Linked DNA regions of Homo sapiens. The protein of the gene in region 2 interacts with the protein of the main gene of each other region in a pairwise test. Each region holds a gene or a part of one and is shown on either strand. Other genes may lie near its edges.

The links.
Region 1: the proteins of PPP1R1B (region 2) and KLHL6 interact in binary tests that used the Homo sapiens proteins (3 or more experiments, as listed by UniProt).

The regions. Positions count from the first base shown.
Region 1 is NC_000003.12:183,548,829-183,552,741, forward strand, and holds part of KLHL6 (kelch-like protein 6), read right to left. Parts: intron 3,499-3,913; exon of another isoform or gene 3,225-3,498; intron 136-3,224; exon of another isoform or gene 1-135. UniProt on the Homo sapiens protein: Involved in B-lymphocyte antigen receptor signaling and germinal center formation.
Region 2 is NC_000017.11:39,629,743-39,633,655, reverse strand, and holds part of PPP1R1B (protein phosphatase 1 regulatory subunit 1B), read right to left. Parts: intron 3,685-3,913; coding exon 3,609-3,684; intron 1-3,608. UniProt on the Homo sapiens protein: Inhibitor of protein-phosphatase 1.

The DNA.
Region 1 (3,913 bases), on a different chromosome or scaffold from region 2:
GTTCATGTCCTTTGCAGGGACATGGATGAAGCTGGAAACCATCATTCTCAGCAAACTAACACAGCAACAGAAAACCAAACACCGCATGTTCTCACTCATAAGTGGGAGTTGAACAATGAGAACACATGGACACAGGTAGGGGAACAACACAACCCGTGGCCTGTCGGCGGGTGGGGGACAAGGGGAGGGAGAGCATTAGGAAAAATACTTAATGCATTCAGGGCCTAAAACCTAGATGATGGGTTGATAGGTGCAGCAAACCACCATGGCACGTGTATACCTATGTAACAAACCCGCGCATTCTGCACATGTATCCCAGAACTTAAAGTAAAATTTAAACAAATTTTAAAAAAGAGAATAAGTGCCAAGAAAAACAAGAATGAGTTAAGGCCATGTAGGTCTGTATTAAAAATCTGGCTAACAGCAAATGTGTTGAGGATTGCTGCTGCCACAGTGGGTACACTTGAGAACTCAAGTGAAGCCAATGATTGTAACACCAGGGTCAGGCCCTATATTTTCCACTTTTAATATTTTCCAATATTGTGGATCAGAACCAATATGATAGTAAATATTTCAGCATTATATATCTATAATCCCTTATCTGTAGTTTCAAAATTCCCAAAGTGCTGATAAATGTAAAGTTTTTTGTAACTTATTTCATGGCTAAATCCAACTTGAATGGCACTCGTCAGGTCGGGACACCTGAGTCTTGCTCTGTTGCCCCGGCTGGAGTGCAGTGGCATGATCTTGGCTCACTGCAACCTCCGCCTCCCAGATTCAAGCAATTCTCCTGCTTCAGCCTCCCGAGTAGCTGGGACTACAGGCATGTGCCACCACGCCCAGCTAATTTTTTGTATTTTTAGTAGAGATGGGGTTTCACCATGTTAGTGCTTGACTCTTAAATAGGAACAGATATCCAAAGACTACCAGATATTTAAGTATAGCCTCTAAAATAAAAGACAGAGGCCAGGTGTGGTGGCTCATGCTTGTAATCCTAGCACTTTGGGAGGCCGGGTCAGGAGGATCCCTTGAGCCCAGGAGTTTGAAACTATCTGGGCAACATAGGGAGACCTTGTCTCTAGGAAATAAATAAATACATACATAAAATAGAATAAAAGAGACAAAAACAAAGAGAAAAATACAGTGAAAACAAACAGTAAAAAACAAACAAAAACAGAAGAGTGGTTTTTTAAAAAATATAAACCTCAAAGAGATTAAGTGAAAATATGACCTATACAAAACAAGAACAGGATGTTATAAAAAGGAAGCTTCATACATAAAACAAGAAAAAAGTCTTGGAAGTTAAAAACTGAGATTCTCAACAGGTTGGAAGATAAAATTGAGAAAAATCTTCCAGAAAGTAAAACAGAAAGATAAGAGGATGGACAACAGGAGAGAGAAGATGAGAAAGCTAGAGACTGTTCTAGAAGTCCACATCTACTGAATAAGTGATCCAGAAATAGTAAACAAGGAAAACAGTAACCATGTAATTACCAGGCAGTAATATGAGGAAATGTTCAGGATTAAAGGATGTGACTCTCCAGATTAAAAGGGTTCATCAAATGCATAGCATAATGGTTGGAGTAAAACACACATACACACACACACACGCACGCACACACACACCCCTCCAAGGCACATCATTGTGAAATATCAAAATGTTATTTAAAATCAAAGAAAGGCCAGGCGTGGTGGGTGGCTCACAGCTGTAATCCCAGCAATTTGGGAGGCGGAGGTGGGTGGATCACCTGAGGTCAGGAGTTCCAGACCAGCCTGGCCAACATGGTGAAACCCTATCTCTACTAAAAAAATACAAAAATTAGCCGGGCATGGTGGTACATCCTGTGGTCCCAGCTACTTGGGGGGCTGAGGTGGAAGAATTGCTTGAGCCCAGGGAGGCTGCAGTGAGCCATGATCAAGCTGCTGCACTCCAGCCTGGGCAACAGACCAAGACCCTGTCTCAAAACAAAACAAAAATATATGCGAGGCCTTAAAAATTTACTTCCTATGGGCTGGGCGCAGTGGCTCACGCCTGTAATCCCAGCACTTTGGGAGGCCAAGGTGGGTGGATCACGAGGTCAGGAGATTGAAACTATCCTGGCTAACATGGTGAAATCCTGTCTGTACTAAAAATAAAAAAAAATTAGCTGGGCGTGGTGGCGGGCGCCTGTAGTCCCAGCCACTAGGGAGGCTGAGGCAGGAGAATGGCATGAACCCAGGAGGCGGAGCTTGCAATGAGCGGAGATACTGCCACTGCACTCCAGCCTGGGCGACAGAGCAAGACTCTGTCTCAGAAAAAAAAAAAAAAAAAAATTACTTCCCATGCACTCTTTCTTAGGAAGTTATTGGAGAATGTGCTTATCAGGGTAAGATGGTAAACCAGGGAAGAGAAAGATAGGGGTTGAAGGGAGAAGGCTCCATTCAACATAGCAGACAGTCCCGGGGAATGATGGAGAAGCAGGTGAATCCCAGCCAGCGTGCAAATCCAGGGAACATGTGTAACATGATGCAAGGCAGGAGGATTCTGAGGAAATGGAACTGGTAGATTGTTTGATGCATTGGACCATATGAAAGATTTTTGTGAGCCTGTGAGCAAAAGACACCCCAAAACAAAGCAAATGAAAAAATGAGTGAATTAATAACTTCAGGAAAGACAAAAGGTTTACAAGAAAAGAAACGTGATCATTGAGTAATTTGGCTCAACAGAGAACAAGGTTTTCGTGAACATAATAATGTAAACTCTTGTTGTGATAACATTATGTTGAAAGATTACAGGGAAGGAAAGCTTATGGTAAGAGGTTAGGTAAGGATACTAAATCCTTATTTGAAATCAGTGAATGATGTCTAACACTGAAAAATCAAGAAAGAGCAGTATAAGTGTATTTTGCAGAAATATAGAGCTAGTGCCAGAAGAAACAAATAGAAGTTGAAAGTGGTAGCCTTTGGCGCATGAGACAGGGTGGAGGAGGAAATAGGAATTTTTGTTTTTTCATTATAAGCCTTTAAATACTATTTAACGCTTTGTTTACTATTTGCATATCTTTAATAAAAAATAAAATTTAATTTTAAAAAAATACATGAAAAACAGAAAGGCAGTGAAGAGACAGTTCAACAAAAAAAGAACTGCAGATGCCCCTTAAACATACGAAGAGATGTTTGATCTTACTAAAAATAAGAAAAATGCAAATTAAAGCTAAATTGAGATATTCTTTCTCATTTATCAGATTGGTAAAACTTCAGCGGTTGGATGACACCCTCTTTTGGTGATGCCGTGGGGGAACGCAACATGATTCAACCCCAATGAAAGAGAAGTTGCAATAACCGCTAAGACTGCAGATGCATTTGACTCAGCAAACCCCCTTCAAGAAATGCATATGAAAAAAACTCATGTTTCAGGTTATTCATTACAACATTGTTTGTAATAGCAAAATGTGGATTAGAAATAGTCCAGATGTCTGTCCGTAGGGGACTGTTTAATAAACTATTGTCAGTCCCTTAGTGGAAAGTAATTATTTTCTCAGTGAATAAAGGAAAAAAATGACATAATTTTATAACCAGCTTCCAGGCCCTCCAAAACACAGAGAGCTGTGTTGAAAGCCTCACAGACTGGTCGGGCGCGGTGGCTCACGCCTGTAATCCCAGCACTTTGGGAGGCCGAGGCGGGTGGATCTCGAGGTCAGGAGATGGAGACCATCCTGGCTAACACAGTGAAACCCCGTCTCTACTAAAAATACAAAAAATTAGCCGGGCGTGGTGGCAGGTGCCTGTAGTCCCAGCTACTCAGGGGGCTGAGGCAGGAGAATGGCCTGAACCCTGGAGGCGGAGTTTGCAGTGAGCAGAGATTGTGCCACTGCACTCCAGCCTGGGCGACAGAGCGAGACTCCGTCTCAAAAAAAAAAAAAAAAAAAAAAAA
Region 2 (3,913 bases):
CCTAAGATGCTAGCCCCCAGGCAGCTCCCCCACACCATAGGGCACTAGGCTGGGCAAGACCAGGCGGGCACAGCAGCAGCTTAACATTCCCTGGCTGGAGAGCTTGATTTTCCAAGTACCCAGTACGGGAGACAGTGTCTCCCAGCTTCAAGCCCAGGCAGAAGGCACAGGGCGTAGGAACCAGGGCCTGGGGATTTGCCACTTTCCATTTCTTGGGGGTGCCCAGCCTGCTGAGGGCTCACTGCTTACCCTGATCCTACCTCCCATGCGATGCATAGTCCCCACTCCCTGGCACTGCCCAGTCATAGATGCCAATCCACATACTCCTGCCCCGGGCTCCAAGGGACAGAACAATTCCGAGGCTGAGGACATAATAGTCTGCAGCCAGTGCAGTCTGTGCCGGGGGATGCGGCATGCTCAGATGCGGCCCCCACAATCTTGACCCACATCCCCAGGTTCCCAGCTCCCTCTGCGGTGACCTAGAAAGCAACCCCCCCAGCCTCCAAAGACCTGCTCAGATAGGGCTGGGAAGGGAACAGTGTGGGCAGCTGGAGACAAGTTTCCAAAAGATGGAAAGGAGCAAGGGGTTAGAGAAAGGGGCCAAGGCCAGGGGTTCTGGGGGATGGCAGAGGTTGAGGGGCCACTGAGGAGAGGCTGCAGGAGCTGGCAGGATCTTAGAACATATGCGACACAAAGTTCACAGGCCACAGACAAGATGCTGAGGAGGGGCTGGGGGTGGGGAATGGGGAGTTGCTGCAGTTCCTTCTTGGTCTGCCAGTGGCCCCTCCCCTCAGAAGGCCCAGAGGGGTAGGGCCAGGCTGGAAACCTCCGGCACAGTGAGCAGGGTGCTATGCTCCTGCCAACTCGGGGACAGGCACAGAGGGTGCTTTGTATGTGCCCGCTGCCCCACCCAGCCCCCAGCTCCCAGCCCAGTACCTCCTGCTGGCTCTGGGCAAGCTATCCAGGCAATAAAAGCACAATAAATCACCCTACCCTGACCTTGGGGACGCGGCAGAGCTTCATCTTGAGCCAAGTGTGAGAGCTCCAGCCTTGGAGCACAACCCCTCAAGCTAAGACTTAGTGCTGTGCCCCTCTCTCTAGGGCCCTCGATTCTTCCCTGACAAGCCCCAACCCTGCCGGGCACCTTCCCTTGCCCACAAAAGGACTGAAGCCTACAAAACAGTGCCCTCCTGGTAGAGAAGGATCCATGAGGGCTGTGGGGGGAGGTAAGGCAGGAGAGCAGGTGGCAGCCCAGGCAGCTTCCTTCTCCCCCAGCGGGGGAGGAGAGTTCACTTCGTGAGCCACAGTGACAACAGAAGGTGTGTGCGGTGCTTGCGCTGGTGCCCCGTGAGCCTCCCTCGCTTCCCCCACCTCCCTCATGCCTCCTGGGCTCTCTGGGGTCTCCCCATCACTCCTTCCAGGCTGTCTCCTTCTCTGCCCCACTCTGTGGGGCCCCAAACTCCCCCCACCACAAGTCTTCCTTCTTCAGTTGGAAGGTCCCCAGCCTTGCCCCAGACTGGCCACCCCTCTCCTGATCCCTTTCCTCTTCCCTGCCTCTACTCACCTGGACTCTCCTAAGATGTGGCCTAAAGGGGCAGTTGAGGGGGTGCACAATTTTGACCACTGCACGGTGCATGGTAGCACCCTGGCCCTAACATCTTCATCCTGGCCTGTTCGCCCATGCTTGCAGTCAAGAGCCAGGTCTTCCCCTCACATCCACCCAGCCTCTCCCTACCCAGCCCAAGGTGGGAGGGAGAGGGATTTCTTAAATTCTCTCCTGAGAAGATGACACTCTGTCCCTCATGCCTGCTTTGGGGCCCTTCCACACACCCCTCTAGGTGGGGAGGTCCTTCCAGGTGCTGAGCCACACTGCCCACTTGCTGCAGCTCTGACCCTTCATTTTCCTGTCCTGGGGAAAGCAAAATAACCCCTTCCCTTCTCTCCTCCCTTCCCAGCCTCTCCTCTCTGTTCCCAACCCTGGCAAGTGGGCTGACAGGTATACCTGTTGACCTTGGCTGGTGCTGGGAACTTATTAAACCCTCCCCCGAACCACTTCCCAGCATACTCTTCCGGTAGCTCTCCCTCCCAACCTCCGCAGGAGCGGAGGGGGCTGGCCGGGCAGGAAGAGCCCCAGGCAGGAGTTGAGGTGGGGGGTTGGTAGGCAACAGGGCTTAGTCAGGAAGAGGCCCTCCTATGTCCTTCAGGTATATCTCCCCAGCTCCCTGACTAGAAACGAAGCCTCCTCCAGGTTGGCCCAGAAGTCCCCCTCTGACTCGCATCTCTTTCTCTTTGCACACCTTCTTCCCTCTTCTTGGACCTGGGATGCCCTTGCCTGCCTGTTAAATTCCTATGATCCTTCAAATCCAAGCTTAAACATCTTTGTGTACCTTCCTTGACCCTTTTCTTTTTTTATTTTTTCCCGAGACAGGCTCTCACTCTGTAGCCCAGACTGGAGCACAGTGGTGCGATCATAGCTCACTGCAGCCTCAAACTTCTGGGCTCAAGCAATCCTTGTGCCTTAGCCTCCCAAGTATCTGGGACTATAGGTGTGCACCTCTATGCTTAGCTCACTTTTTTTTTTTTCTTGAGACAGAGTTTTGCTCTTTTTGCCCAGACTGGAGTGCAATGGTGCGATCTCAGCTCACCACAACCTCTGCCTCCCGGGTTCAAGTGATTCTCCTGCCTCAGCCTCCTGAGTAGCTGAGATGACAGGCATGCGCTACCACGCCTGGCTAATTTTGTATTTTTAATAGAGACAGGATTTCTCCATGTTGGTCAGGCTGGTCTCAAACTCCTGACCTCAGGTGATCTGCCCGCCTCGGCCTCCCAAAGTGCTGGGATTACAGGCGTGAGTCACTGCGCCCGGCCCGCTTAGCTCACTTTGTAAATTTTTCATAGAGATGGGGGTCTCACTGTATTGCCCAAGCTGGTCTCGAACTCCTAGGCTCAAGCAGTCCTCCCGCCTTGGCCTCCCAAAGTGCTGGGATTTCAGGTGTGAGCCACCTTACTTGGCCCCTCCCTGACCCTTTGAGGCAAAGAGCCCCAAGGGGGCAGGGACCAAATCTGACTCATCTTATTCTGCCCAATGCCCACCAACTTGGCCTGGCATATACTAGGTGTTGAGTAAGTGTGCAAAAGGAATGGCTTGCTTTTCCATGGAGAAAGGGAAGCAGGAAAGAGGAGACCAGTGTGCAGATCTGTGCAAATGGGATGCAAATGGGAGGGGAGGCCAGGGGTGAAGCCCACAGGAGAAGGCGCCCTGGATGAGCAGGGGTGGGAGGTGGTCCACCACAGGCTGGTGAAGAGGAGCTGCAGGTGGAGTCCCTTCCACGCGGATGCCTGCTGGTTGTCTTAGGCCAGCCATCTCTTTTCTTTCAAGCCCACAACCCGATGTTAAGGCCCATAGCTGCCCATTGCAGCCTCGGGACTCCTGTGTTTTGCAAGGCCAGACTGAGAAAAAATTGGTCTTTACGTTGGGTTGTTGCGCCACGCTGACAGCGGGCTATGTGTGGCGAAACAATCCCTCCCCACTGACAAAAGCTCCCCTAGCGTCTGCCCAGTTCCAGGGATCAGGCGGACAGCCAGGAAGGTCGGTGGGGGTATAGTACCTTTCAGCGAAGGTGGTGTGTAGGCACAGGGGTTGGGTCTCTTCGACTTGAGATGGTGCCCCTCTCCTGAGGCTCTCTGCCAGGGGAAGTGCCAGGTTAAAGGGGCTCAGCAGAGGCCCTTGCCTTCACCATCCCTCCATTCCATCCCACCCATGGCCACCCAAGCAGACTGATTTAGCCACTGCTAATGGGTCCTGCACCTAGGCTGAGCCTCCCCACCCTGTGGCTTTAGGGGGGGCCCCCCATAAGCCATGGCCTGGTTCAGGGCAGGACTCTAGGTCCAGGAGGTTCCACCCTGAGTCTGA